Homo sapiens: one gene and its partners. The protein of the gene in region 2 interacts with the protein of the main gene of each other region in a pairwise test. Each region holds a gene or a part of one and is shown on either strand. Other genes may lie near its edges.

Region 1 (7,042 bases), on a different chromosome or scaffold from region 2:
AAATCAGGCCCTTGAGAATGGTGTCATTTAGATGCTCCCCACAGCTGTTAGGAGATTCATTAAATATTCAATAATTAGGCCAGGCACAGTGGCTCATGTTTGTAATCCCAGCACTTTGGGAGGCCGAGGAGGGCAGATCACTTGAAGCCAGGAGTTCGAGACTAGCCTGGCCAACATGGCGAAACCTCGTCTCTACTAAAAATACACAAATTACCTGGTCAAGGTAGCACACGCCTGTAATCACAGCTATACGGGAGCTGAGACACGAGAATCACTTTGACCAGGGAGGTGGAGGTTGCAGTGAGTCAGGATCAGGCCACTGCGCTCCAGCCTGGGTGACAGAGTAAGTCTCTGCTCAAAAAAATACATATATATTCAATAATTAATAATGCCTTCAAGACTCTCCCTCCTACACAGAACAGACCCTTTAAAGGAAGCCATCGGTAATTAGACTTGAGACTGACTTCTTCACCACTAACCAGATCTTGGTGGTACGGGGAATTTGTCTTCCAAGTGCTTATTAGTAAAATGCTCATACTTCTGAGTCAGGTATCATCCATGAGTGAATCGTTAGGTAAATATTTTAAATGGCTATCTGTAGTAGCCAGTCTCCAAGATGGCCCAATGATCCCCACCTCTTGGTATACACACCCTGATATTCACACCCTCTCCCCACATTGTACCAGTGTCAATCTGTGTGACCAACAGAATACAGCAGAGGCATGTCATTTCCAAGATAAGTTATACAAGACTGGCTAGAGTCTTGAGCTCTCTTGGATCACTTGCTCTGGGGGGAAAAACCAGTTGCCACATCAAACAGCCCTATGGAGAGTAACTAAGACCTGCCAACAGCCATGTGAGTGAGCTTAGAAGTGGATCCTCCCCTAATCCAGCCTTCAGATGACTGCAGCCCAAGCCAACAACTTGACTGCAACCTCAAGAAAGGCCTAATTCAGAACCACTCAGATTGTCCCACAGACACTATTTCCAGGTGATAAGTTTTGGGGTAATTTGCTACACAGCAATAGATAATTAATTCAGTGTCCCACACAGAACTGAGAAGGAAATGAGGTTTAACCCCCAGTTCCTACACTATTTTAAGACCAATTTTTGTCGATAAGAAAGCAAATTTATTCAGTTATTCAACATTTTTTGGAGACAGGGTCTCACTCTCTTGCCCAGGCTGGAGTACAGCGGTGCAATCATAGCTCACTGCAGCCTTGAACTCCCAGGCTCAAGCAATCCTCCCGCCTCAGCCTCCTGAGTAGCCTGGATTACAGGTGCATGCCACCATGCTGTGTGCGTATGTGGAAACGGGGTCTCGATATGTTGCCCAGGCTGGTCTCAAACTTTTGGTTCAGAGCAATCATCCCACTTCAGCCTCCCAAAGTGCTGGTATTACAGGTGTGAGCCACTGCACCTGGCCTCCATTAGCTTTTTTAATTTTCCTGTTCCTAATGCTTTGGAACTTCACTCCCTGCTTTCACAAACCCTCTGCAGAAGGTACATCAAGTCGCACTCTCTAGTGATTTTAAGTGCTCAGTGACCTTCTGACTGCAAGGAGGGCAGGTTATATTTTCTCATACTCCTTTTTCACTGTACCACATGGTGTCCCCTCTAACGGGAGAAGAAAGTTAGGTCCCCTGCTCCCATTAATATTGGGACAAGGGGGAATTCATTTAGTATTTTACTAGGGAGAGAAAATCTTGATCACAAGACCTGAGAACAATTCTAATTTCTGCAGTTAGTGACTAAGTGACGGCAGGAGCGGGGATACAATCACTGCTCAAGTCTCCTTCACAGCTGAAATGGCCATGGGGGTAGGGAGGAGGTCGTCCCTTACCCCTGCCTGGACTCTGCTGTCTCTCCAAGCAGCAGGAGGGTTGTGCTGCTCTAAGAAAATCTGGAGCCTCCCTCCGTACAAAGAAGGTCAAAGGGCGAGCTTTCTTTCCATCAACCACAAAACCAGCCTCTGCCAAACCTAAACAGAGTGGTAGGCCGTCGGAGGTGAATGGAGCCCCAGACAGAAAACCACAACGAGGCTCTCCTCCCGCCGCCGGCTGGGGTCTGAGTCAGGTGACTCCTCAGGACAAACAGCAAACCTAAACAAAGATCACTCCCCACATGACTGACTAGGGGGAAGAAGACTCTCGCTGTAAGCCCAGGGCTGCCCGGTCCCAGCACGGAAAGCCAGGAACTCCTGCTTTCTGTGCAGTCTCGGAAACTGGAGGAGCTACAAGTTATGCAGCAGCTCAGCCTGCAGGGATGCACCTGGAGGAACTCGGAACCCCATCCGAGGACACAGGCGCCCTGCCCTGAACACACGCCTCCCGCTCCAACACGCAGGCTGGACCCCTCCCCACCAGCTGTCACCGGTGCTTGCGACCAGTCACAGGCAGCGAAGCCTGTCCCTCTGCGGCTGCGACCCCGCGGAGGCGGCAGAGGAGACGCTTCGCCGAGGGCTCCGGGGCCAGGACACGCCCGTCCCCCGGGAAGGGGCGGCAGGGTGGGCGCGGCCCCAGGCCCACGAAGGCTCCGGATCCATCATCCCCCCCACGGGGAGCGAAATAAGCCTCCCACTCCCCGGCCCCAGGCGCCCCACCTTGTCACCGAAGCTGCGGGCCATCAGCAGGTCCGGGCTGGGCGTGCTGTCACCACCCACGGCCTCCTCGCTGCTGGAGCCGGCCAGCGGGTGCGGCATGTCGCGCAGGGAGTGGGGCCCCGTGGACGGCAGGGCCTTGGGGGGCCCGCCCGCCATGGCGCGCACCGCTCGGGACGCGCCGCCGCCGCTTCCTCCTGCTGCCCGCCGCGGCGAGCTCCCCGAGCACCCCGGGCCGAGCCCCGCTCGGCCGCCGCTTAACCCGAGGCCTTGCACCGGCCGTGCTGGGGGCCGCCGCCACCCGCCGGCTGGTCTCTGCCGGCGCTCAGACGCTCCGCTCCGCGCCGCGCGCCCCCGCTCCGCGCCCGAGCCCGCCGCGGGTCCGCTGGCAGCACGGCCGCGGCGCCCAGCCCACACAGCCACACCGCCCACCCGCTCCGGCCCCGCCCCCGAGGCGCCGCGGCCGCCCGGGAGGGGGCGGGGAGGGCGGGGAAGGGGCACGTGGGGAAGGAAGGACGGAGGGAGGGAGGGAGGAGGCGCGGCCCCGCCCCCGCCCGGCAGGAAGTGCGCCCTGGGCCTCTGCGGCTGTCCTCCCAGTGTCCAACGTTGCCTCGCGGAGGCCGCCGTGCGGAGCAAATGTCTAACGGAAATCAGAGGTGGAAAAGAGGTTGGAGGAGCCTGTTCCGTTCCACCCGCGTTTACTGATGCGCCCACCAGCAGCCACGCTTGGGGCTGGGGGCTTTGAGGACACGCACGTGAGTCAGGGTCTTCTGGCCTCTAAGGCACGCGCAGGAAGAACCCTAGATAGACGGAATTACGACCCATATCGGAAGAATAGCATAAAGGGCGACAAGGCTCAAATGAGCTAGAGGACATCGGGTGGGGAACCTGGAAGGGACTTCAAAGAGGCGGTGTGGGGAGTCTTCAGGCTCACTCTGAGGTCCCCATTGTGGCTTGCTTCTGCAGCTGAGCTGGATTTGTGTAAAGTCAAACCTCAGAACAGCGAGCATGAGTAGAGAGTCTCAAATGATATGCGACTCTTCAACTCACACTTTGGCCGAAGAGACTTTTGAAAGAACCATGAGGTTCAAGTTATTCTTCATGCATTTGTGCTTCCTTTCCAGGCCTTGGGCTGAGCTGATTCTCAGCTTTATTTGCTGGCGTGGTGCAAATAGTCAAGGTGTTACTTCCAGCCCTTTGGGGTGTAGGTTCACCTCCTTTTTCCACCTTACCTGTCCCTAGATCTTCTGTTTCCAAGGCCAAGTCTTTAAAGGGTTTTCAGTCCCTCTAGCAAAGTAATGGGTAGGGAGGCTCATCGTGAGGGACCACATTTTCCCTACCCATTCCAAACTCAAAGGTTTGCCTAGCCTTACCTGCTAAAAGGTGATGACAGATGTTGACTCTGGGATTCACTAAGGCCTCTACCACAGTTTTCTCTAGAAACAAATAGAAGAGAATGCAGAGGGTTGAAATCTACCCAAAATATCAGTCAGAGACTCTGAGCTTCAAAGACCTTCCCCTATTTCCCCCAATGTAATTTATATAGGGTTGGACCCTTAGTCCTCAAGCTATCATCTTTATCTCCTCCACATAAGCCTGCCTTGGCTGGGAAAAGTAGCATTCAAAGGGCACTGGGAACAATTTTAAATGCTGCATCTAAGGAATGCCAAGTTCTGGTCCTCTTGGAGTTGGATTAAAATTGTTAACACTTTCACATTCAAGGGCTGCTTACAACTACTACAGACCCTATTATCTGTTCTTCTGAATTAGCATGAAAATGAATAGCACAATATAACTAGAAATGAGTATTTCTAGAAATGAGTATATACATCTATAGATGTATAACATCGGTTTTTCTTATTGAATGGTGCTACTTATTTTAACAACCAGGCTGCCTTAAATATAATGGACATCCGTATGGATTAAGACTCTATACAAGCTTTCTCTTTAGTACACCAGGGGAAAGTGAAAAAAGAACCACATTTGAATTCGGCTTTGTCACTACAAGTGGGTGACCATGAGCAAGTTACTAACCTCAGTGAACCTGTTCCTAACCTAAAAAGGAGGAGAATGGAGAGCAGGTAATAATACCTTATGAGATGGTTGTGAGAGTTATATAGCATTCTTTATGTCATAGTCCTAGCAAAGTGCTGGCATAAAATAGGTGCTCCCTAAATGTTAATTACCTACCTTCCTTTCCCTTTCTGTCAGATTTTCTCTACTATTCTTATGAAATAATAAAGAGTTTTTGTAATTAAATATGCTTTACTATTCTGAGTAGGGTCTGGTTGAATATACATATATATACACACACATACACACCAGGTAGGGTGCCTCACACCTGTAATCCCAGCACTTTGGGAGGCCAAGGTGGGAGGATCACTTGAGCCCATAAGTTCAAGACCAGCTTGGGCAACATAGTGAGAGCCCCATCTCTATAAAAAATGTAAAAATTAGTCCGGCATGGTGGCACATACCTGTAGTCCCAGCTACCCAAGAGGCTGAGGTGGAAGGATTGCTTGAGCCTGGGAGGTTGAGGGTGCAATGAGCTGAGATTGCACCACTGTACTTCAGCCTGGGCAACAGAAGGAGACCTTGTCTCAAAATAAAAAAAAATATATATATATATACATATATATGTGTGTGTACATATATATGTGTGTATATGTGTGTGTGTGTGTGTGTGTGTGTATTGACCTCCAAAGTCCTCCATTTGCTCAGTTTAGATTGGAGTACCACTTTTCTATGCTCCCACCAAAAAAAGGACCCAGACCCAGAGTTCCTAAAAGGCCATATGAAATAGTTGATTACAGTTTATTTATTTATTTTCCAGTTTCCTGGTTGGTCGATAGCAGCTGGCCACAATATCCAGTGGGTAGTCATCAAAACTAAAGAAAGTGAATTTGTATGGAAAGTATTTTGGTAGAAAGTTTCCACGATGAAATTTAGCCCAGCCCTGCCCATTCATATTCACCATTTCCTGTGGTATTTCAGTGTTCCTTGTGGTGGGAAATTGTCACTGAAATAATATAAGTGTCCCAGAGCATGTGACTTTGCTTCTACTAAAAGGTTTTGTTTTTTTTTTTTTTTTTTCTTGGAGACAGGGCCTTGCTCTGTCGCCCAGGCTGGAGTGCAGTGGCGCAATCTCAGCTCACTGCAACCTCCGCCTCCCAGGTTCAAGCGATTCTCCTGCCTCAGCCTCCACAGTAGCTGGGATTACAGGTGTGTGCCACCATGCCCGGCTAATTTTTGTATTTTTAGTAGAGACAGGGTTTCACCATGTTGTCCAGGCTGGTCTCAAACTCATGACCTCAAGTGATCTGCCTGCCTTGGCCTCCCAAAGTGCTGGGATTACAGGCTACTAAAAGTTTTAAAAGCAGCATGGTGGTAAGGAGGAAACGTGTAACGTTTCTCCATCAGAGCAGAAGGCTGTGGTGTTTGTTGGAACTTATGGAGGGAAGCTTGGATTTCTAGGGTTGAGCTCTGAGGAAGATAGTAGATGTATGTGTGTGCATGAGGGGCGAGGGAGGTCCCCAATGCCACCAGAACCCAAGAACACAGCATGGAGCCCTCCCAATTCATAAGGAATCTTAGACACTTAGGCTGGCACCTTTCAGGAGACAGGGCTTTGGGCCCCAGAATTTAGTACGCTTACCAAACAAATCCTATCGACCTCACTAGCAAGCGTATTGGGGCTGCCTGTGAGCACCCAGACCTCAGAAACAAAGCAGTCTCAATGCATCATTCGCTCATTCTTTCCCCTGGTACAGCATGTGCTTAGGCCTTCTTCATGTTTGTGTTAGCCGCTTATCCTCTGGTGGTTTTTAGTACAATCATAGCTTTATTCTATATGGCATCCCAAGCCCTGCCTCAGAATAACACCACCACTTCTGAAGTGGACGGCTGGTGAGGACAAAGGACGTTTTCAGAGAGCATTCAGGATGACATGTCGCAAGCCACAGAGGGCTGTATCAAACAAGGGGGGCAAGTGAGAAGGCACAATCCCCAACAGAGACAAAATTGTGTGGACAATTTAATTCAGCCAATGATGTCCCAGGAAAGAAACAAGGTCCACTTGAGTCCAGGATCTGAACAGTTTTGCTAACAAGAAATTGGAACTTGCTACTGAACCAGCAGAGGGGCTTGTGGGTGAATGATAGCATCATTTTATCTCTCCATATAGAAGAGCTCCTGGCTTGCAAAGCATGGAGACCCTGATGCAGTGAGTTATACAGTACAGTCATGGAGTTAGTGTTCCAAATCTCAAACTTTGGGTGCCTAACAATCAATTGTGAGCTTGTAAAAATGCAAACTTCTGGGCCCCACATCAAGAGATTCTGCTTCTGGAGTGAGGCCTGGAATAATTTTTAATTTAAATTAATTTTTAATTTAAAAAGTGTTAATCTCCTAGGTGATGCTTACGCTGATGCTGGTCTATAGACT
Region 2 (7,023 bases):
CTAGAGATAATTTAAAGCAGGGGGTCCCCAACCCCAGAGCCACGGAGTGATACCAGTCCATGGCCTGTTTGGAACCAGGCTGCATAGCAGGAGGCAAGCGACCACCTGAGCTCTGCCTCCTGTCAGATCAGCAGCAGAGGCATTAGATTCTCTTAGGAGCACGAACCCTATTGTGAACTGCGCATGTGAGGGATCCAGGTTGTGTGTTCCTTGTGAAAATCTAATGCCTGAGATGATCTGAAATGAAACAGTTTCATCCCGAAATCATCCTCAGCACCCCCTGCCCTGGTCCATGGAAAAACTGTCTTCCACAAAACAGGTCCCTAGTGCCAAAAAGGTTGGCGACTGCTGATTTAAAGTATACAAAAGGATATGCACAGGTTACATGCAAATACTACACCATTTTATAGAAGGGACTTAAGCATCTGAGGATTTTGGTATCCCAGGGATCCTTAAACCAATCTCACTGAAGATACTGAGGGATGACTGCACTACTGAACTATATACTTAAAAATGGACAAGATGGTACATTTTATGTTATATATATTTCACTACACACACAAAGGAAATAGAAAACATTTGCCATATTTCCCCTAAGTCAGACAAAACCACCATAAGCTTCACAACCAGGGATCTCTTATATGAGTTTTTATTTATTTTTACAGAGTCATAGCCAAGAATCCTAATAGAATTTCTAACACTGAAATAATATGGAGTAGTCAAAAAGAAGACACTTCTAACTGAATTTCTTTTTTTTTTTGAAATGGGGTCTTGCTCTGTTGCCCAGGCTAGAATGTAATGGCACAATCATGGCTCACTGCAGCCTCAACCTCCTGGGCTCAAGTGATCCTCCCACCTCTGCCTCCCAAGTGGCTGGGACCACAGGTGCATGCCACCACACCCAGCTAATTTTTAAATTTTTGGTAAAGACAGGGTCTAGCTATATTAATCCACACTGGTCTCAAATTCCTGGGCTCAAGCAATTCTGGGTTTACGCCTCTGCTGCTAAAGGTGTCGGGATTGCCATTGTAAGCTACCATACCCGGCTTGAATTTCATAATCAAATGGAAAACTTCCACGTGAAATATTAGACGTTATTTCTTACTCTGTATGAATGATATTTTAAAAATTACTTTATGTTATAAAAAAAGTCGATAAATTCACTAGGCAACTATGGAAATAAACCAAACTAAAGAAGCATATTTAAAATCTGCATAACTCAACGCTCAAACTTGGGCATCTATTAATAAAACAGGATACCTAAATCCAAGCATGGGAAGGCAACCCCAAGCTTCACTGCTTTAACATTTCCTCACTCTCTGGAGTTTACTGAAGAAAACACTTTTCCCTTGACATGTAGGATAGAGAACCAAGCTCCCTGAAAATGGCCTGGGAACTTCTCCCACTGAGTTTTAAAAATAAACCAAGGGCCTAGTTTATACATGTGTCCTGGTCACAAGTCTTTCCCCACATATATCTGTGACTTTTCACAGATGTAGCCAGTGGGTAATCTCTGTGAAAAGCACTTTTAAAACTATAGTGCTTGGCCAGGCGCGCTGGCTCATGCCTATAATCCCAGCACTTTGGGTGGCCGAGGCGGGCGGATCACGAGGTCAGGAGATTCAGACCATCTTGGCTAACATGGTGAAACCCCGTCTGTACTAAAAGTGCAAAAAAAAAATTGGTCGGGCGTGGTGGCAGGCGCCTGTAGTCCCAGCTATTCAGGAGGCTGAGGCAGGAGAATGGTGTGAACCCAGGAGGTGGAGCTTGCAGTGAGCCACACTCTAACCTGGGCAACAGAGCGAAACTCGGTCTAAAAACAAACAAACAAACAAACAAAAACTACAGTGCTTATTAACTAAGTAGAGACATTGCTGCTGGTTTACTACTTTCAGAATGTGTGTTGCTCACCATGATGGCTGATTTATTGCAATGAAATAACTGGAGTAGAAAGCTGATTATAAAAATGATCCAAGACTAATGCAATCAGGTACAGAATTTTCCTCACAAGTACTCACTGTAAGCATTAAAGAATAAAGTACATCAAAAGCTCCCTGTTAGGCGAGATGCACTGGTTCTAAGTGGGTAAGGCTTTTCAAAGTCAACTAAAATTTCTGCAAAGTACCTTGCAAAGTTAAACCTGATAAAGGTCACTGCATGTTTTTTCACTTGGACTTAGAAACCAGATGATAGACTAGGCATGGTGGCTTACCCCTGTAATCCTAGCACTTTGGGAGGCGGAGGTGGGAGGATCACTTGAGTCCAGGAGTTTGAGACCACCCTGGTCAACATGATGAGACTATAAACAAAATTAGCCAGGCATGGGGGCACATGCCTGTGGTCCCAACTACTCAAGAGGCTGAGGCAGGAAGACCACTTGATCCCAGGAGTTTGAGGCTTCCATGAGCCCTGATCATACCACTGCACTCCAGCCTGGGAAACAGAACCAGACCTTGTCTCAAAAAATAAAAATTAATAAAAACAATTTTTTTGAGATGGAGTCTTGCTCTGTCACCCAGGCTGGAGTGCAGTGGCGTGACCTCGGGTCACTGCAACCTCCGATTCCCTGGTTCAAGCAATTCTTCTGCCTCACCTTCCCGAGTAGCTGGGACTACAGGCGTGAGGCACCACACCTGGCTAATTTTTGTATTTCTAGTAGAGATCGGGTTTCACCATGTTGGCCAGGCTAATCTCGAACTCCTGACCTCAGGTGATCCACTGGCCTTGGCCTCCCAAAGTGCTGGGATTACAGGTGTGAGCCACCGTGCCCAGCCCAATAATTTTTTTTTTTTTTAAAACGAAACCGGATGATACTGATTACACCAGAGAAATGTTGGCAAAATTTCTTATAATTCTATACAGTACATGGTTTTAATGGCTTACATCATTTTGTATCAAGATAATAATAAAAGAATTATAAAGTTACTCACAAATTATTCCCCTGTAAAAGGTTCAGCCGTCCTGAGTATTGTAACTGGAACTGATTCTACAGGAGTGAGTTACTCACTCAGAGTGAGTGCTTGTGAGGAACATTCCGTGTTGCTACAGTATCATCAGAGGCCAAAAGGAAAATACTCACCCCAGTTACCAGTTCCTCACACTGCTGCTTCTTGGATGCTAAGTCCTGAGCAGCCATCTCCAAGTCATACTGCATAAGTTCATGTTTCCTGCACACAGCCCTACAGATGAAAAAATGTGCTGCCATTTAACTTTTCCTTTAACATGTCAAACATTTTTTTCAAGGGTAGAGGAGAACCATTCACAATGTCTCGCTAGGGCAGAATGTGTGTGCCCAGAATTTTCAAGTTTAAAATGTAGTAGCCCAACATTAAAAATGGAATCTAATGGAATCTAGCAGAACCTAACCATAAAAACTTCATATATTCTTTTTTTTTTTTTTTTTTTTTTGAGACAGAGTTTTGCTCTTGTTGCCCAGGCTGGAGTGCAATGGCGCGATCTCGGCTCACTGCAACCTCCGCCTCCCGGGTTCAAATGATTCTCCTGCCTCAGCTTCCCTAGTAGATGGGATTACAGGCATGCGCCACCACACCCAGCTAATTTTGTATTTTTAGTAGAGATGGGAATTCTCCATATTGGCCAGGCTGGTCTCAAACTGCTGACCTGAGGTGACCCACCCACTTCGGCCTCCCAAAGTACTGGGATTACAGGCATGAGCCACCTGTACCCGGCCAAAAACGTCATATATTCTTAACACAAAAAAAGTTGTTTTCCATATACTTGGAACATTTCTTTCAATAAACATGCCATTATCACATACATAAAACATTTTTTAATGTATGTGAGAACTACATACATAATGTATACATATGTATACATAATTACATACATAATGAACTACATACATAATTAGTTCTTACATAATGTAAGAACTAATGCTGTAATCTCACATAGCAACTGAGTATTCTTAGAAAAGATAATACCTCAAAGTTTTCTTCTTTGTGATTTAGAAATGTCTATTAGGTATTTTTTTTTTTTTTTTTTTGGAGACAAGGTCTCACTCTGTCACCCAGGCTGGAGGGCAATGGTGCAATCTCGGCTAAATGCAACCTCTGCCTCCTGGGCTCAGGCAATCCTCCCACCTCAGCCTCCTAAGTAGCTGGGACTAAGGCATGTGCCACCATATCCAACTAATTTGTGCTTTGTAGAGATGGGGTCTCGCCCATGTTGCCCAGGCTGGTCTCAAACTCATGGGCTCAAGCAATCCATCCACCTCAGTTTCCCAAAGTGCTAGGATTATATGCATGAGCCATGTCGCCTGGCCTAGAAATGTTTATTAGTTTTTATGATCATAAAAGTAATCCATGTTCACTGTAAAAAGAAAAGATTCGGATGGGCGCGGTGGCTCATGCCTGTAATCCCAGCACTTTGGGAGGCCGAGGCGGGTGGATCACGAGGTCAGGAGATTGAGACCATCCTGGCTAACACGGTGAAACCCCGTCTCTACTAAAAATACAAAAAAAGCCGGGAGAGGTGGCAGGCGCCTGTACTCCCAGCTACGCGGGAGGCTGAAGCAGGAGAATGGCGTGAATCCCGGGGGGCGGAGCCTGCAGTGAGCCGAGATCACGCCACTGCACTCCAGCCTGGGTGAAAGAGCGAGACTCCGTCTCAAAAAAAAAAAAAAAAAAAAAAAAAAAAAAAGAAAAGAAAAGATTCTAATACAGCAATGCACAAAGTAAAAAAAAGAGGCTGGGCATGGTGGCTCATGCCAGTAATCCCAGCACTTTGGGAGGTCGAGGTGGGCAGATCACCTGAGGTCAGGAGTTCAAGACCAGCCTGACCAACATGGTAAAACCCCATCTCTACTAAAAATACAAAAATTAGCCGGGCATGGTGGTGCATGCCTGTAATCCCAGCTGCTTGGGAGGCTGAGGCAGGAGAATCACTTGTACCCAGGAGGCAGAGGTGGCAGTGAGCAGAGATTGTGCCACTGTACTCCAGTCTGGGCAACAGAGTGAAACTCCAACTCAAAAAAATAAAAAAAACAAAATACAACAAGAAAGTTCAAGAACACTCTCTTTCCTCCAATCCCACTATCCAGATATAATCGGTGTTACCAGATAGTATATAATCTTTCAGAATTTAGCTAGGCATTGACAAATACCATATCCATGCACCCCAAATGGTTCCTACATCTTTTCTCAAATGGCTATACACCCTGGCCATCTTTCCATGTCAACATACATTAATCCCTTTTATAATTTTTAAGAGCTGCAGAGAATTCCACTGTACTCAGCAACTTTCTTTTTTGAGACAGAATCTCACTCTGTCACCCAGGCTGGAGTGTAATGGTGCGATCTCGGCTCACTGCAACCTCCACCTCCCCTGTTCAAGCAGTTATTCTGCCTCAGCCTCTCCAGCAGCTGGGATTACAGGCACCCACCACTATGCCTGGCTAACTTTTTTGTAATTTTAGTAGAGACGGGGTTTCACCATGTTGGCTAGGCTGGTCTCGAACTCCTGGCCTCAGGTGATCCATCCGCCTTGGGCTCCCAAAGTGCTGGGATTCAGGCAGGAGCCACCTCACCTAGCCAACTTTCTTTTGCTTGGTGACTTGAAAATACATTGGTGAGACTTCCTACTACTCAAAGCCCTAGAAGGAAAACGAGCTAACAATGTGCAGATGATTTCACACCAATCACCACAGAGGTAAGGGAATAGTGCTCTTGTTTTCCTAACAGAATTCTTATACTGCTTTTAAAAGCGACAGGACAGTGTTGGCTCATGCCTGTAATCCCAGCACTTTGAGAGGCCGAGGCGGGTGGATTACCCGAGGTCAGGAGTTTGAGACCAGCCTGGCCAACAACGGTGAAACCCTGTCTCTACTAAAAATACAAAAATTAGCTGGGTGTGTTGGCGGGCGCCTGTAATCCCAGCTACTCAGGAGGCTGAGGCAGGAGAATAGTTTGAACCCGGGACGTGGAGGTTGCAGTGAGCCGAGATCACGCCACTGCACTCCAGCCTGGGTGACACAGCCAAACTCTAGTCTGTCTCAAAAAAAAAAAAAAAAAAAAGTGACAGGACAACTGACCAAAAGCCACCTATTCTGGGAAAATAATTCCTTTTTCTAAACTGATCAGAAAAAAATATATTAACTTTTTCCTAGTCACGTAGGACTATCTAAAAGAGAATTCCCTTTGGCTCTGTAAAAGATAACATAAGAACAGATAAGAAAGTCCTTGTTACATAAGGACGTTGTACAAGCTACTGATAAGACACACAGAATAAAAATAGCAATATACAACATAGTAACAGATACTGTTACACACACTGAATCTGTATTTTGCTTCCAATCTTCAAACTGGAAAAAGTGGAAACAACAACATACAGGCACACTTGATGCCTGAGGCTGGCAGGTTTTATCAAAATGATGCTTCGAGGGCAGGCCTCATCTTACATGTTTATGCCTAGCACTCTGCAACACAGAGAAATACAATGAGACCTCATTCATTATCTGAGGGAATGCATTCATTTAAAAAACACTCTACTATCTGTACTTTACAGTGGCATATGAGGAGAGTGGTGAACAACCCTGTGGCTGCACCTGGAACTTTTATTAAACTTACCGCAATGCTTCTGCATAAAAAAGATACTCTTTTAACTGATCTGCATAATGTTCTTCATCTTCCAAAATATCATCAATAGAAGATGCATACCTGTTTTAAAAAAAAAAACACACATTGCATAGAGTTACTTTCATTGGAATACAAAGTATTAGGGTTCTAGAGAAGTGCAATTAGGCTGGGCGCAGTGGCTCACACCTGTAATCCCAGCACTTTGGGAGGCCAAGAAGGGCAGATCACTTGAGGTCAGGAGTTCGAGACCAGCCTGGCCAACGTGGTGAAACCCTGTCTCTACTAAAAATACAAAAATTAGCCGGAAGTGGGGGCGGGTGCCTGTAATCCCAGCTACTTGGGAGGCTGAGGCAGGAGAATCTCTTGAACCCGGGAGGAGGAGGTTGCAGTGAGCCAAGATCATACCAGTGCACTCCAGCCTGGGTGACAC
Region 3 (7,215 bases), on a different chromosome or scaffold from region 2:
CTGAAGCCTGTACAAGCATGGCATCAGCATTTTCTTGGCTTCTGCTGAGGCCTCAGGAAGCTTACACTCATGGCAGAAGGCAAAGGGGGCACAGACAGGCATGTCATAGGACAAGAGAGGGAGTGAGCGAGAGAGAGAGATTCAGAAAAAGAGTCAGAGTGAGAGAGAGAGAGATAGGTGCTATGCTCTTTTTTTTTAAACAATCATTTCTTGTGTGAACTAATAGAGCAAGAACTCACTCACTACCACAGGGAGGGCACCAAGCCATTCATGAGAGATCCTCCCCCATGACCCAAACATCTCCCATTAGGCCCCACCTCCAACATTTGGGATCACACTTCAACATAACTTTAGGAGGGGACAAATAGCCAAACAATATCAACTAGATACATAAGCATGTGACATCAGGTGACTATGTGATCCAAGCAGCTCCTCATGAAATGGGTGCTATAATGAAAAAAATCCTAAAATTGATCCAGCCTTACTTCAGCAAGCCATGCTCATGTGGAAATGTAATATTTGAAAGTGGTCCTATAAGCATACATTGCATGAGCATTTGGCTTTTACTCTCAGCAGGTCTACCCCTATGATCTCATAGGGAGTTTTATCTGAACAGTTAACTAAGGGGTAAAAACTCCAAAGTTGGTTTACAGATGGATCTTTATCATTTGCGGGAATCAGTTAGTAGTTATTGCAGTGCAAAAGGGCAGTGGACAAGGGAAATCCTCCTCTTGGTATACAACAGTGCCCACTATGCTTCAAAGGGCAGTTAGAATGAGGCTTCTATGCTCTTTCCAGGACAAAGGCTAGAGGTTTGACTTGATGAGACTTAGAAGAAACAAGGTAGGATCTCGGGGTCAAGAAGGTTTGAGAAAATGTATGTAGGTGACTTTCTTGGAATGGCCCCAGAATAAAAGCATATTTGTATGTAGCCCACAACAATGCTCTCCAAAAAAGCCTTTTCATTTGATGAATTTATGTCATCAGAAATAAGTTTGAAAATAATGCTTATTCTCCTGTGGATGTTAATCTTACTGCTTTTCTAGAAACTCCAGTGCTTGTTCTATGGCTTCACATACCATGTGGCCATGGTGGCAGGGATTTATGCTATGCATTGGCTCAAAAATAAGGATTTCCTCTCACTAAAGGATAATTGGCTGCTTCCATTGCTCAGCACTCAGCTTGCCACAGCAACTATGCAGGACCCTTACCCTGCCACACTGGAGGATGCCATGATTTGTCTTTAGTGGAAAAGTCAAATTGGCTTTGCTTTTTCTGCTCATCAGATTTCCCTCAACACGCTCGTCCATGAACTTATTGACTGGTCTATTCCTCAGTAGATTTTGCACATTATATTTTTTTCTAACTAGTTAAATCACTTTCTAGCAAAAGAAGTAAAGCCTTTGGGCAATGCCCATGGGGTAACTTGTCTCATCACAAAACCCATTACTAGAAACAGCAGACTTCATAGATGGTGGAATTGAATATTAAAGATCCAGTTATGGTCTGAAGAGATCCCATCTGGAAAGTATAAGGGAGAGAAAGCTTTTTGACAAGATGTATATTCATGAAACCATAAATTAATGTATGATATTATTTCTCTTAAACAGGACAGGAGTGGGTAGGGCTGCTCTTAATATTATACTTGCACTCCAAGTTTTGGACTATGCTGGTTTAAAGGCTTTAGTACCCAAGTAAGAATTCTTCCATTAAAAAACCTAGTGATAGGCTGGGCACGGTGGCTTAAGCCTGTAATCCCAGCACTTTGGGAGGCCGAGGCGGGTGGATCATGCAGTCAAGAGATCGAGACCATTCTGGCCAACATGGTGAAACCCTGTCTCTACTAAAAATACAAAAAATTAGCTGGGCGTGGTGGCGCACGCCTGTAGTCCCACCTACTCAGGAGGCTGAGGCAGGAGAATCGCTTGAACCCGGGAGGCGGAGGTTGCAGTGAGCAGAGATCACGCCACTGCACTCTAGCCTCGGCGAGGGAGTGAGACTCTGTCTCAAAAACAAACAAACAAACAAACAAAAAAACCCAGTGATAGTCCCACTTAATAGGAAGCTGAGACTACAGGAGGAATAGACATACTGCTTTGGAGTTGTACTAATAATGAGTAGGTTTGGGATTATCTCCCTTTGAGGGGCTGTGAACTGCATGCTCAGGTGCTCAAAGCATGGAGGTAGGGGGAGTATGTGAAGAAAGGTAATATTAATTGGACAGCCAAAGGGGCAAATTATAGTCACGTTTTCCCTACTCTTCTTCCTCATCCTACCCCTCTTCCTATTTTTCTTGTTTTTGGTTGACAAGCATCAATATGGCCTTTCTATGTTTAGAAAATTCTCTGCCTTAGGAATTTCCATGAAACTTGGCCAGATTGGCCAAGCACACATACTCTCCAGGGTTTTAATACTAGAAAAATCAACACAGAGAAACAGGGTGATGGAGACATTTTTGTGGCAGTAATAGCAGGGAAGTTCTCAGAGGTAGCTGTGGTACTGCTGCCAGGGAAAGCAACTGGAGTCCAGTAACATCAGTGTTAATGACAATATTGACACTGGTGAAGATGGTGTGGCAACCAGTATCAGGCAATGGTAGCAGCAATGTCTGTACCACTGGTTCTGTGGCCTTGCTTTTGGCTATAATCCAAGCTGTGCAGCCTTGCTTTATTCTGCCCATTTTCTGAGCCCATTCTCTATGGTTTCTAGCAATTCTGTGAGTTACAGCATTATTAAGAATTTCCTGGTTCAGATTGCAATTAGAAAACCTTGAATCTTCCTTACTAGTCAGAATAAGCTTATCAAGGAAAAAATAAAGTCTTTTAATAACTTATATTATTTACAGAAATTAGCAGAGAGCATTTTGAGAGTACATCTGATACTGTGGTTAATACATATCAGGATCCTCAACCTGAAAATGTTATCATTTACTAAGGAATGGAAAACTTGTACATGAAACAAATACAATCTGCAAGATGGAATAAAATTAAATGCTAAATTGAGAACAGACTGTCATTTAGAAAGTCTTTCTGAAAGAGATGGGACTATATTTAATTTCTGAAGGATGGGCAGGAGATGGCATTTAAAGTACAGAAATCATCAAGCACAGAAACAAATGTGGATACTCATGGGGCAGTGACCAACCTGACTGAAGGGTGGGTGCACGTCTGAAATCAATGGGAATACATTTGAATGATTAGGAGATAATATATTATTAAGGCCTTGCCTCTAATCAGAAATAAAGATATTCTCTATTTCCCCAAATAAGGAATTCTTACATAGAGCTTAATGTATTTAAAAATTTTTAAATGGGCCTACAGAAAAGAGGTGGGGCTGACGGAAGTAAATAAAACCTGAAGATAAATTAAAGAATATATCAACGTGGGCAAAATTTTCCATTAGTTTTGGAACTTAGTTTTGTTTTTGAATAATAAGCAGTTAAATAATTAAAGCTTTGCCTTGGCAATGCAAGGACTGAAGATTATTTCTCGGTGGCAATTTTCCAGACTTGCTAGTTGTCCTTGGGTCTTGGTAACATTCTGCTCATTAACTTCAGGAAGACGTCCAGGAGTAAAGATGCATTTGAAAGTGGCTGAAAATAGTTTGTAAAGCTCAGCTTTCCTGGCTCGACAGTGAAATGACCGCACAGGCCAGTCACTGGGTCAAAAATCAATTAACAAAACGGGAAGTTTTCATGTCTTTATTTTTACATTAGCTCGAAAATCACAACCAAGAAGAAAGGCAACCACTGAATACAGGAAATACAGTATTGTTATTGCTGTTTTTTTTTTTTCTCTTGGCAAGGCTGGGTCGGGTGCCTTCCAGCCTCGCTGTGGATCCCGCGAAGTGGACGGTTCGCTTCGTGGCTTCTTCCCAGACCCCGCCACTGCGGAAACCGTCACTCGGTGGCCCCCGACTGGGTCAATGCGAGGACGCCCACCTCCTACCTTTGAGTCTCTCCTCTTCTCCAGGGTACAGCCAACCCTTTCTCCAACGTAGCCGGAGTCCGAGAGTCCCAGTTCCGCCCCTCCAGCCCGCCCCAGGCCAGGTGGGGATGCGCCCGGCCCGGGCCAGCGCTGGTCCCGGCAGTTCCGCGTCTGCGCAGCGGGCGAGGGGCTGGAGCGGGGCCGGCCGGGGAGGTGCAGGAGACGTGGGAGCCAATGGGCACGCTCGGGGGAGCCGGGCTGGCGGCGGCGGTGGCGGCCGGCTGGGCGCGCACTCTCGGGATGGAGGGCGAGCGCCGGGCATCGCAGGCGCCCTCCTCGGGCCTCCCGGCCGGGGGCGCCAACGGGGAGAGCCCGGGGGGCGGCGCCCCCTTTCCGGGCAGCAGTGGCTCTTCCGCCCTGCTGCAGGCGGAGGTGCTGGATCTGGACGAGGACGAGGACGACCTGGAGGTGTTCAGCAAGGTGAGGGCGGCGGCGGCGAGTCCCGGGAAACTTCCAAGGCAACTCCGGGCGTTGCCAGCATTGCGCCGACGGCTGCCTCTGGCGCGCTTGCCCTCCCGGGGCGGTGGCTCTGAGCTGGGGACGAGTGAGGTCCCCCGGGCTGCTGGACCCCGCCTGCCAGCTCTGGCCGCACCCGGGGCCGCGTCGCCTCGGGGCCTCAAACCGCAGCCGCTCCCTCCTCCGCACTTTGACCTTCCGTTCGGCGGGGCTGTGGCTTAGTGGAGTCTGCAAAGTTGTGATTTGTTTTCCCTTTCTGCTTCTCTGACACAGACATCTTCCTCGCGGCAGCTCCCGAACCTGGGAGGCTGGTGGCTCAAAACCGCTCCCGCCAGCTGCTTTTCGGGCGAGGCCAGCCCTGAACTCTGGGAGAGCAGCCAAGTTTAGAGAAATTATTCTTAATTTAGTGTTGTTGCTTGTGGATTTGAGACTTGGGTGAGTCTCGGGTCTTGTGGGAATAGGTTCTAGGAAATCTCCCTGAACAGGAGAAAACGGTTGTTTCTAACAGGAAGCTCCTCCGCTGAGGAGCTAAGGATTTTTCAGATGGTCAGCTACTGCCACCCAACCCACAGCCAGTGCTTTCGTTTTTCCTTGCCCCCGGGAAATTTAGGACCAAAGGCTCTTATTTGCTTATTTTACTGTTGGAGGGAAATTGACTTGTGGGGGCTAGTGGTAGACTTTTGGTACGTGTAGACTGGTGTTTGTAATTTCTTAAAGGGTTTTAGAAAAGAAAAATACCTTTCTTGCAGGGAGGTTGAATGTCACTCCAGTTTCTCAAGTTGCTGCTGAGAGAAGACCTGAGTTCAGATCACAACGCTGTATTCATTACTAAGAAGCCTGTTCATTTTAACGTTACCTGGAGATATTAGGTAAAGCAAACGACCTACTTAACCACCGCATTTACTCTGGGAGAGCAAACCAAAGTTAGGAAGTGACCATGCATACTCTGACTCCAAAGAGGAGTATATAAAACTTATTTCTACTTCGGTTTAAATGGAATGATAGGCCCAGGTTTGTATTCCGAATATTTAAACAGACTATCACAGTTTTGTGCTCTTGACTTTTCTGTTAAGTAGTAAAACAATGGAATTATTTTATGTTTAGTTGTAAACTCTGCCTTTTTATATTCCACACATACTTCATGTTCAGATCAACGACAGTTGGCCAGTTGGTTATTTACTTTCTTTCCTTCTTTACATTGCTGTTTGGATAAGGAATATTAGTCTATGGTTATGCATTGTGAAACTTTGGGATGGGATGTTGGAAATAGCAATGGTGTATCAGAATCATCAGGGTTTCTTTCTGGTTTTTTTTTTTTTTTTTTTTTTTTTTTTTTTTTTTTTTTGTCGGGGCTGGACCCATCTGGCCTCAAGGGATTCTACCACCTCCAGCACCCAAAGGGTTTGGGATTACAGGCTTGAGCCACAGTGACTCGGATTGTTTTAAACTTGTCAAGTGGTTTCTCTTTCCCCAGATTCTAGGTGTTCTAGCTGACTCTTAAGAATCAATGTTTAAATGAGGTCCTCTTGTCAGAGGCAGATCCAAGGTGAAGCTAATGAAATTGAAGCTTCAGCGCTATTCGTTTGCTTAGACCTCTGGGCGTGTTGGGGGTTGCTGGAGTCGCAGATGTTCTAGGTGGGAAGGAAATGACAGGTCCCGACCAGAAGCATTTCTAAATAAGCATTTCTGGTGAATTGCCTAAAGCTCTCTCAGACTAAGGAATCTAGATCTCCATGGCTCCAATCATTTATTGAGATTTCTTTTCTCATTCTGAATAATGTGTTTTTCCACCTAATTTTGTATTCTTTTAAAAGGGGACCTTCCAAACTCTAAAAGCCCGTACACCTGGGTCCACCCTGCTTGTTAGTGTTAACTGCGCGTGTTGGATGCTTAGAAAAAGTTAAGAACAACTTCTGTAGAAACTGCCCACATAGATTAAGGCAAAGATATAATATTAGTGAAAATCCAACAAGAGTAGTTGGAAAAGTTTAAAATTAGCCACTTTCATCCATTTCAGTAAGTTGAATTTCTCAACCGTTATCTGTAGTTAAGCAAATTTAAGAAAGCCTGCTCCACGTGGCCTTCCCTTTCCACTACCTTCCTTGCCTGCTCCTCTATAAAACAAACACCACTGCTGTTCAGCCTATCCTAGGATGGAATCTCACAATTACTTATGAAGCAAACTGTCCTTCCCTTTTAGTAATTTGAGATTGGCAAACTACATATTTAATTTACATTCACCTTTATAGTCCCCTTATTCTCTTAGATTATTTGTGAATATGTGTCTGGTATACTCTTCCAGAAGCTTTTTAAAGAGTATGAATTTCCCCAGCACTTTGGGAGGCTGAGGCTAGCGGATCACTTGAAGTCAGGAGTTCACAACCAGCCTGGCCAACATAGTGAAACCCCATCTTTACTAAAAATATAAAAATTAGCCGGGTGTGGTGGTGGGAGCCTTTAATCCTAGCTAACCGGGAAGCTGAGGCAGGAGAATCTCTTGAACCCGGGATGCAGAGGTTGCAGTGGGCTGAGAGATCACGCCACTGCATTCCCACCTGAGTGACGGAGTGAGACTCTGTCTCAAAAGAAAAACAAAACAACTTCTTATTATTTTTTTTCCACAACGTATTACAAGTACATGGCAAATATACATTTTGTGTTAAGTATGCTTTAAAAAAAAGAAATACAAGATTTAGTTCTTGCTATCACAATCTTATACTCCAGGTGGGAAGATGTGACAAACTCTAAATGGCAATATAAATCAAGAGGGATG

What was found. Proteins that work in one complex are often made in the same cells at the same time.
Region 1: the proteins of SNX4 (region 2) and SNX30 interact in binary tests that used the Homo sapiens proteins (3 or more experiments, as listed by UniProt).
Region 3: the proteins of SNX4 (region 2) and SNX7 interact in binary tests that used the Homo sapiens proteins (3 or more experiments, as listed by UniProt).

What each region holds. Positions count from the first base shown.
Region 1 is NC_000009.12:112,746,718-112,753,759, reverse strand, and holds the start of SNX30 (sorting nexin-30), read right to left. Parts: upstream 3,001-7,042; 5' UTR 2,759-3,000; coding exon 2,603-2,758; intron 1-2,602. UniProt on the Homo sapiens protein: Involved in the regulation of endocytosis and in several stages of intracellular trafficking. Together with SNX4, involved in autophagosome assembly.
Region 2 is NC_000003.12:125,454,187-125,461,209, forward strand, and holds part of SNX4 (sorting nexin-4), read right to left. Parts: intron 6,675-7,023; coding exon 6,585-6,674; intron 3,180-6,584; coding exon 3,080-3,179; intron 1-3,079. UniProt on the Homo sapiens protein: Involved in the regulation of endocytosis and in several stages of intracellular trafficking. Plays a role in recycling endocytosed transferrin receptor and prevent its degradation.
Region 3 is NC_000001.11:98,657,506-98,664,720, forward strand, and holds the start of SNX7 (sorting nexin-7), read left to right. Parts: upstream 1-4,215; 5' UTR 4,216-4,226; coding exon 4,227-4,406; exon of another isoform or gene 4,407-4,877; intron 4,878-5,191; exon of another isoform or gene 5,192-5,311; intron 5,312-5,430; exon of another isoform or gene 5,431-5,453; intron 5,454-7,215. UniProt on the Homo sapiens protein: Involved in the regulation of endocytosis and in several stages of intracellular trafficking. Together with SNX4, involved in autophagosome assembly by regulating trafficking and recycling of phospholipid scramblase ATG9A.